Linked DNA regions of Homo sapiens. The protein of the gene in region 1 purifies or fractionates together with the protein of each later gene. This does not show direct contact. Each region holds a gene or a part of one and is shown in the gene's direction. Other genes may lie near its edges.

The links. The genes of interacting proteins can lie anywhere in the genome.
Region 2: the proteins of HARS1 (region 1) and PFDN1 fractionate together in Homo sapiens (co-fractionation; one large-scale study listed by BioGRID). This does not show direct contact.

Annotation. Positions count from the first base shown.
Region 1 is NC_000005.10:140,677,824-140,681,806, reverse strand, and holds part of HARS1 (histidine--tRNA ligase, cytoplasmic), read left to right. Parts: intron 1-1,923; coding exon 1,924-2,019; intron 2,020-2,679; coding exon 2,680-2,805; intron 2,806-3,791; coding exon 3,792-3,899; intron 3,900-3,983. UniProt on the Homo sapiens protein: Catalyzes the ATP-dependent ligation of histidine to the 3'-end of its cognate tRNA, via the formation of an aminoacyl-adenylate intermediate (His-AMP). Plays a role in axon guidance.
Region 2 is NC_000005.10:140,278,939-140,282,921, reverse strand, and holds part of PFDN1 (prefoldin subunit 1), read left to right. Parts: intron 1-1,388; coding exon 1,389-1,473; intron 1,474-3,983. UniProt on the Homo sapiens protein: Binds specifically to cytosolic chaperonin (c-CPN) and transfers target proteins to it. Binds to nascent polypeptide chain and promotes folding in an environment in which there are many competing pathways for nonnative proteins.

The DNA of each region.
Region 1 (3,983 bases):
TCACAGTTCCAGAGGCTGGAAGTTGACATAACATGTTGGCAGGCCTAGTTCTTTCTGAAGGCCATAAGGAAGGATCTGTTCCAGGCCTCTCTCCATGGCTTGTAGATGGCCATCATCTCCCTTTGTTTTTTTTTTAATTGAGACAGAGTCTCGCTCTGTTGCCTGGGCTGGAGTGCAGTGGCACCATCTCATCTCACTGCAACTCCACCTCCCAGGTTCAAGCGATTCTCCTGCCTCAGTCTCCTAAGTAGCTGGGATTACAACACGTGTGCCACCACACCTGGCTAATTTTTCTATTTTTAGTAGAGACGAGGTTTCACCATGTTGACCAGGTTGGTGGTCTTGAATTCCTGGCCTCCAGTGATTCGCCCACCCCAGCCTCCCAAAGTGCTGGAATTACAGGCATGAGCCACCGCGCCCAGCCTCCCTTTGTCTTTACATCGTCTTCCCTCTGTCCCTATCTAAATTTTCTCTTCTTACAACAACATATTGGATCAGAGCCCAACTTGGAGACCTCATGTTAGCTTAATCATCTCTTTAAAGACCCTATCACCAAATGTAGACATGTTCAGAGGTTACTGGGAGTTAGGACTTAAACAAATGAATTGGGGAGGGTGGGGCCAGGGGGACACAGTTCAGCCCGTAACACTAGTGTGTTACTGTTTCTGATACTGCATACTGGGAAGTTTCAGGCTTTTTAATCTTTGCCAACCTGGTAAGTGAAATATGCTATTACCGATGATAGACATCACAGGGCAAGGACTGCTGTAATGCCCTTAAGACATTCCCCAGTTTTTACTTTTGACATTATTCGAATCTCAGGCATCAAAAAACATTTATGTTTATTGGTCTGATAACCTATTCCTAGTAGTTTATCATCAAGAAAAATACTTTTTTTTAAAAAAAAAAAGAGCTATATACCTAAATATTAGATATTGAAATGTTATGGGGAATTTTTTTTTTTTTGAGACAGAGTTTCACTCTCGTCACCCAGGCTGGAGTGCAATGGTGCGATCTCTGCTCACTGCACCCTCTGCCTCCCGGGTTCAAGCGATTCTCCTGCCTAAGCCTCCGAATAGCTGGGATTAGATGCCTACCAGCTCCCCCAGCTAATTTTGTATTTTTAGTAGAGACAGGGTTTCACCATGTTGGCCAGGCTGGTCACGAACTCCTGACCTCAGGTGATCCATCCGCCTTGGCCTCCCAAAGTGCTGGGATTACAGGCGTGAGCCGCTATGCCTGGCCTAAAAAAATTTTTTTTTAAATTAGAATAACCTAAACACCTAACAGTATAACATGAGGGAGGAAGTAAGTACAGAGCTTCTTCTCACTGGAATTTATGCATCTTTTAAAAACACTTCAGGCCGGGCGCTGTGGCTCGCACTTGTAATCCCAGTACTTTGGGAGGCTGAAGCGGGCAGATCACGAGGTCAAGAGATCGAGACTATCCTGGCCAACATGGTGAAACCCTGTCTCTACTAAAAATACAAAACTTAGCCGGGCATGGTGGCACCCGCCTGTAGTCGCAGCCACTCTGGAGGCTGAGGCAGGAGAATCTCTTGAACCCCGGAGTCAGAGGTTGCAGTGAGCCGAGATCACGCCACTGCACTCCAGCCTGGTGACAGAGCGAGACTCCATTTCAAAAAAAAAAAACAAACTTCATGCTGAGAAGTCTGAAGAAAAAAAAGATTTTTAAGAGGAAAATGTGTAAGAAAAATACTTCAGCTCTGTTACAAAATCAAAATAGAAAAAAACACAAAATTGGTGTTTCCTTTTAATGATAACTACATCAGACACCTAAGAATTGGGATAAAGAGCAGAGGGAAATGTAGACAAGTTGGAATCAGTCATGTTTGTTTTCAAAACTTCCTTTTAAATTGTTATGTTTATTATTATGACCACATTTATTTATGTTTTCTCCAGGAAACACTGATGGGAAAGTATGGGGAAGACTCCAAGCTTATCTATGACCTGAAGGACCAGGGCGGGGAGCTCCTGTCCCTTCGCTATGACCTCACTGTATCTTTCTAAACTTGGGCTCTTGAGACTTTGGATGGATTGGCACTCACTTGGCTCAGGTTTAAGAATGGTAGAGTAGGTAGGATCAAATATGAGGCCTTTGGCGATTAGGGGAATTATTTCTCTAAACCAGGAGTGGAACTTTGGCTAAACAGAGCATACACATCCTTAGAAATCTTCTGAATCCTGAGTGAGACCTCAGCTTGATGTCAGGGCCCAGTTCCAACTCTACAGTCATCCCCTGGCTCCAGAATACCTCTCCCCTGCCCTGTCCAGTGAACAAAATTCTTCTTAATGGACTAGCAACACATTTCCCTTGTCTCCAAGCTACACAGAGAATCATCTGCTTAGAAATCCCATATGGGGGCCTTTTTCTGGTCGCCTTTTTCTGGTCTGTGGCCAACCTGCCCAGCCCCTTGCCATGCTCAAAAAAGTCCAGTCAACACTACAAAAGGGAAAGGTGCCTTAATCTTTTTTGAGCCTTCAGCTACCTCATGTGGTAGCACAGCTGATGCTTTCTGATGTTTGTAAGTGCTATTAATCTTATGGGTGGCAGTTTTACCCACATAGGGAGGGGTTAGACCCCAGCTTCTGTTGGTGATGATAATCAACTTGCAGACAGTGATAGGAGGGGCTTTCTCCTTAACTCTTTGTCATCAGGTTCCTTTTGCTCGGTATTTGGCAATGAATAAACTGACCAACATTAAACGCTACCACATAGCAAAGGTATATCGGCGGGATAACCCAGCCATGACCCGTGGCCGATACCGGGAATTCTACCAGTGTGTGAGTGTTGGGAAACCGTGGGGCAGGATGAGTTACTTGGGGCTCTCTCAAGCCAGCAGAATCTATTGAGTACTCACGGTGTCCTGAGCAAATTGGATGACCCAGATAATGCTCTTAGGGTTTCTATGGTGGTTTTTTTGTTTGTTTTTTGTTTTTTTGAGACGGAGTCTCGCTCTGTTGCCCAAGCTGGAGTGCAGTGGTGCAGTCTTGGCTCACTGCAACCTCTGCCTCCTGGGTTCAAACGATTCTTCTGCCTCAGCCACCTGAGTAGCTGGGATTACAGGCGCCTGCCACTATGCCCGGCTAATTTTTTGTATTTTTAGTAGAGACGGGGTTTTACCATGTTGGCCAGGCTGGTCTCGAACTCCTGGTCTCATGATCCGCCTGCCTCGGCCTCCCAAAGTGCTGGGATTACAGGCGTGAGCCACCGCACCCAGCCTCTTCTATGGTGTTTTCATGCAGATTTCACAAAATCCCTGTGGTGGGGGAGGAGAATAAAGTCTCTTCATTTTACATATGAGTAAACTTGATACCCAGCCCATGAAGAGATCATAGGGATAAGAAAGGCAAAGTCAGGACTAGAACTCTTGGTCCAGTGCTCTTTATTTTAAACCACAGTGATAGGATCACAGCAGAGAATAAGGAAATTAGCTTTGATACATCAAATCATCCAGACTGATGCCAGGGCTTCTGGATGAATAGGGAAAATGGCTAAGCACTAAAGCCATATAATCACCCCATCCAGTAGGAGGAGTTAAGAAGATGATGAAGTAGAAAATGAAGGAATAGCCCAGTAGATGGAAAGGAAACCAAAACTGGTGAGAAGCCCAAAGATGCCGGGGTTTACCTCTGGGCTGATGATCAGAAAATGAAAGAGAAATTCTATGCTTGAGTGCAACCAGGCCTTCCTAGAGGACAGAGCTCCCAGAGTCCCCCCTTCAGAAAGGTGAATCCCTGAAGACCGCTGGCTAACCCTCTCCCTGCAGGATTTTGACATTGCTGGGAACTTTGATCCCATGATCCCTGATGCAGAGTGCCTGAAGATCATGTGCGAGATCCTGAGTTCACTTCAGATAGGCGACTTCCTGGTCAAGGTCAGAGCTGACAAGGCTGGGAGGGCAAAGTTGGGCCTGGCCTCTCACAAGAGAAGATCCTTGTGCAGAGGGACCAGTAGCCTA
Region 2 (3,983 bases), 400 kb from region 1:
TTTGTTGCTGAACTCTGTTAGTGCAAAGAGAAGAAAAATCTTGCTTAATTAATTGCAATATTAAATTGAAATATATTTTAGCTTCCTTAGACAGTCCTGAAAGAGATTTGCATAACTGGGGTCTTCCCTTGGTTCCAGTGGAGGGGAAATATTTCAGTTCACTTACTTGGGGCTATAAAAGTTTGTTCTTCCTTTCCCTGAAGCAAGAATTGTGAACATAAAGTCATAAAACAGTTTCAGTGTTAATTTTTAAAACTTCTCCATATTTCCACCCTCATCAGTGGTAAATAATGTGCCTGATGTAAAATGGAAAAAGTTGAAAATTTCCACTTGTACATTTTGAGCTTTTCAGAGGTACTATATACACTCTGGAAATAATAATAAAAGATACTAAGGCTTATACAGTGCTTTTTGTTTGAGGAACTCATATAAACACTAATGCATTGATCCTAACACAGTGCTTGATTGTGACTTTAAAAGGTCATGAGTTACTGCTGTTACAAAAAAAAAAAAAAAATGGAGGGGCGCTCCACTTTACAAATATAGTTTAAAAAATATCTAGATAAAAATTGAAACAGATAACTGAAAAAACAAAACTTATAGGGTATTTGTTTGTATGTTGACTTTTCTCTTAGCGTATGATATATTTTTATTCCTTTATTATTTTTTCTTTTACATATGAATCTACTTGAAGCCTGATTTTCTTTTCTTTTTTTTTTTTTTTTTAATGTTTTTAAGACAGGATCTTGCTCTGTTACCCAAGCTGGAGTGCAGTAGCACAATCATGGCTCACTACAGCTTTGATATCTCAGTCTCAATTGATCCTCCCACCTCAGCCTCCCTAGTAGCTGGGACTACAGGCGTGTGCCACTGTGCCTGACTAATATTTTAAATTTATTTTTTGTAGAGATGGGTCTCATCATGTTGCCTGGGCTAGTCTTGAACTCCCAGGCTCAAGCAGTCCTCCTGCCTCGGCCTCTCAGAGTGCTGGGATTACAGGTGTGAGCCACTGTGCCCAACTCCCGCAACCCCCCCGCTTTTTTTTTTAATGAGACAGGGTCTTGCTATGTTGCCCAGACTAGACTCAGACACCTGGGCTCAAACAATCCTCCCACCTCAGCCTCCTGAGTATCTGGGACTGTAGGCCCACACCACTGTTCCCTGCCTGATTCCTATATTAAATAAGAAAGCAGAATCTACTTTTAAGCCTTTATTCCTTCTCAGCCAAGAAGGTTTAAACTTCTGGTGGTTTCCTGAGCTTGACGTATTATGTTAATATGCATTTGTCCTTTTAATTTGCTCAGTTTAATATTTGTAGTATGTAGCTATTGATTTCGATGAATTCAATAGTCATGTGGCTTAATTTTCAACTTTCTTGTGTTTCATAGGTTTATTCTTCAGTCCAAGGAAGCAATTCACAGTCAGCTGTTAGAGAAGCAGAAAATAGCAGAAGAAAAAATTAAAGAACTAGAAGTAAGTTTTTATTGGCAATAGGAGTTAACTTTTGGGAGAAAGTAGTAATCTTATTGTGTCATATTAAATGAAAATGTATGCCTGCCTGCCAAAGTAATGTCATATTATTTTTATTTTCTATAATTACGTTGGAGCCGTGAAGCTGTCATATTCATATTCATAGCGCATATAAGACCAAAACAAAAAAAAAAGAATAGTCTCTTCTTTGGAACTGCAGAGAATTTTGATGAGATGGTTTTAACCTGAATGTATTTTGTTCATTGCCCTTGAATGTGTTTATTCTTTAAAAAAAACAAAACCATAAACAAAATGTAATGTATATTTAAACAACACTTGTGTAGTGGATTGTGGTGGATGGGCAGGAGAGTGGGTAATAATGATAAATTTTAGAGGATCTTGGTATAGGGTCTTTTTTACACATTGTAATTTCTTTAACCTAAATTAGGTTCTATATAAGGACAAAGTAGCAAGCTATAACCAATTAACTATCTGAAGGATGGTGCTCCAATGAGAACAATTTTTTCTTTTTAGCTAGGGAAAAAGATGATAGGTAACAGTAAGCAAATCTTTGGAAATATTACTTTATTATTTTTATTATTATAATTTATTTATACATTAAGACCTTTAGTGAGATATTCTTCTTGGGCTTTGGTGAAAGGCCCATCCTGTGTATAGTAAAAGTTAGACTGGACAAAAAGCTGGTTATTTCTTAGGGACCAAGATTTCCCAACATGTGGGTGGATACATTGACTTCATAGGTCATTTCATCTAATTTCTGTAAGTACTATTTGAGGCAGAGGATCAGAATCTAACTCAGCCCTCTGCTGAATTTGGGAGCTACAACTTGTAGCCTCCTGAGGATTTCTTAGGGGCACTGAATTGGCCTGGCCTGGGAGTATGCAGTATCTTAGGTTACTTAGGCTTATTTTTAACTACTGATAGTTGAAACAAACTTGATAATAGATTTGCAGCTTAGAAAAGTGTATTGTAAAAACAAGACAAAAAAGCAAAAAAACCAAGTAAAGAAAAAACAGCCTGTGATAACCAGATTGTTGTTGTGTCCTATTTTAACATTTTAATCAGCTCAACTGTTCTAAGAGGTTCAGTTTGATATCTGTGTTTTCACTCATAAGAAACAAAAGTATCTTTAAAAACCCAAACAGAATCATTTCATGTAGATAAAACAAAATGCATTTTTGCAACTGTAGGTAAATATATTTAAAATTATCCTAATGAATAATAAGTAGCAAGGTAATATGTATATAATTCTCTTTATGAAAACAAAAAACAAACATTTGTGTATGAATATTGAAGATGATATGTAAGGATATATATTAAATTGTTAATACTGTTTACCCTAAAGAAATTAGATGGGACGTAGGGATAAATGATTTTTTCTTTTTCTTTCTTTCTTTTCTTTTCTTTTCTTTTTTTGTTTTTTTTTTTTTTTTTTGAGACGGAGTTTCGCTCTTGTTGCCCAGGCTGAAGTGCAATGGTGTGATCTCGGCTCACTGCTACCTCCGCCTCCTGGCTTCAAGCGATTCTCCTGTCTCAGCTTCCCAAGTAGCTGGGATTACAGGCATGCGCCACCACGCCCTGCTAATTTTGTGTTTTTAGTAGAGATGGGATTTCTCCTTGTTGGTCAGGCTGGTCTCGAACTCCCGACCTCAGATGATCTGCCTGCCTCGGCCTCCCAAGTGCTGGGAATCATAGGCCACTGCGCCTGGCCTTGATTTTTTTCTTACAATCTCTGTAATAATAAATTATAACAAGTATACATTAACTTTTTTTGTTGTTAACTTTCATGATTAAAAAATTAGCAGAGTGGGCACAGTGGCAAATGCTTGTAGTCCCAGCTACGGGAGGCTGAAGCGGGAGGATTGCCTGAGGCATTCCAGCCTGCGCAACATAACAAGACCTTGTCTCTTTAGGGAAAAAAAAAAACACAAAAACCCCAATTATCAAGGTGAAATTGCCACAGGTGATGATTTTATCAATACCGTACTGCTGAGTTCTGGTGAATATTAAGAAATTTACTTTCTGCAAGTTTCCTTTTGTTGAGTGTCTCAAATACTGGTAGAATGTTTTATCTTTTAGGAAGTTCTTTTTTCTTTTTTAATTTTTCATTTTACATGTTACTTACATTATAAAAGCAATAGAAGTACACCATAAATAAAATATAAAACAAATGATTAAACAATGAAAATATTACTTTGTTTTTCCACCCTCGGTACATCCAAATGTCACCTCTACGGTTTCTGTATCATTCCAAACTTCTATATTTATATCAAGACATTCATACATGCATATATATACACAACCTTTTTTTAAAATAGGAATTATGCTATATATACTGTTTTCCATCATTTGACAGTTTATCTTGCTACTTTAGTAATATAACTCCAGTTTATATACAATTTCTTTTTTTGATTCCCATCATCATGGGCTCCTTACCATGAGCCTTATTTCAGCATTTAATATGTTCTCCAGTACTTCCCTAATCTGTGCTT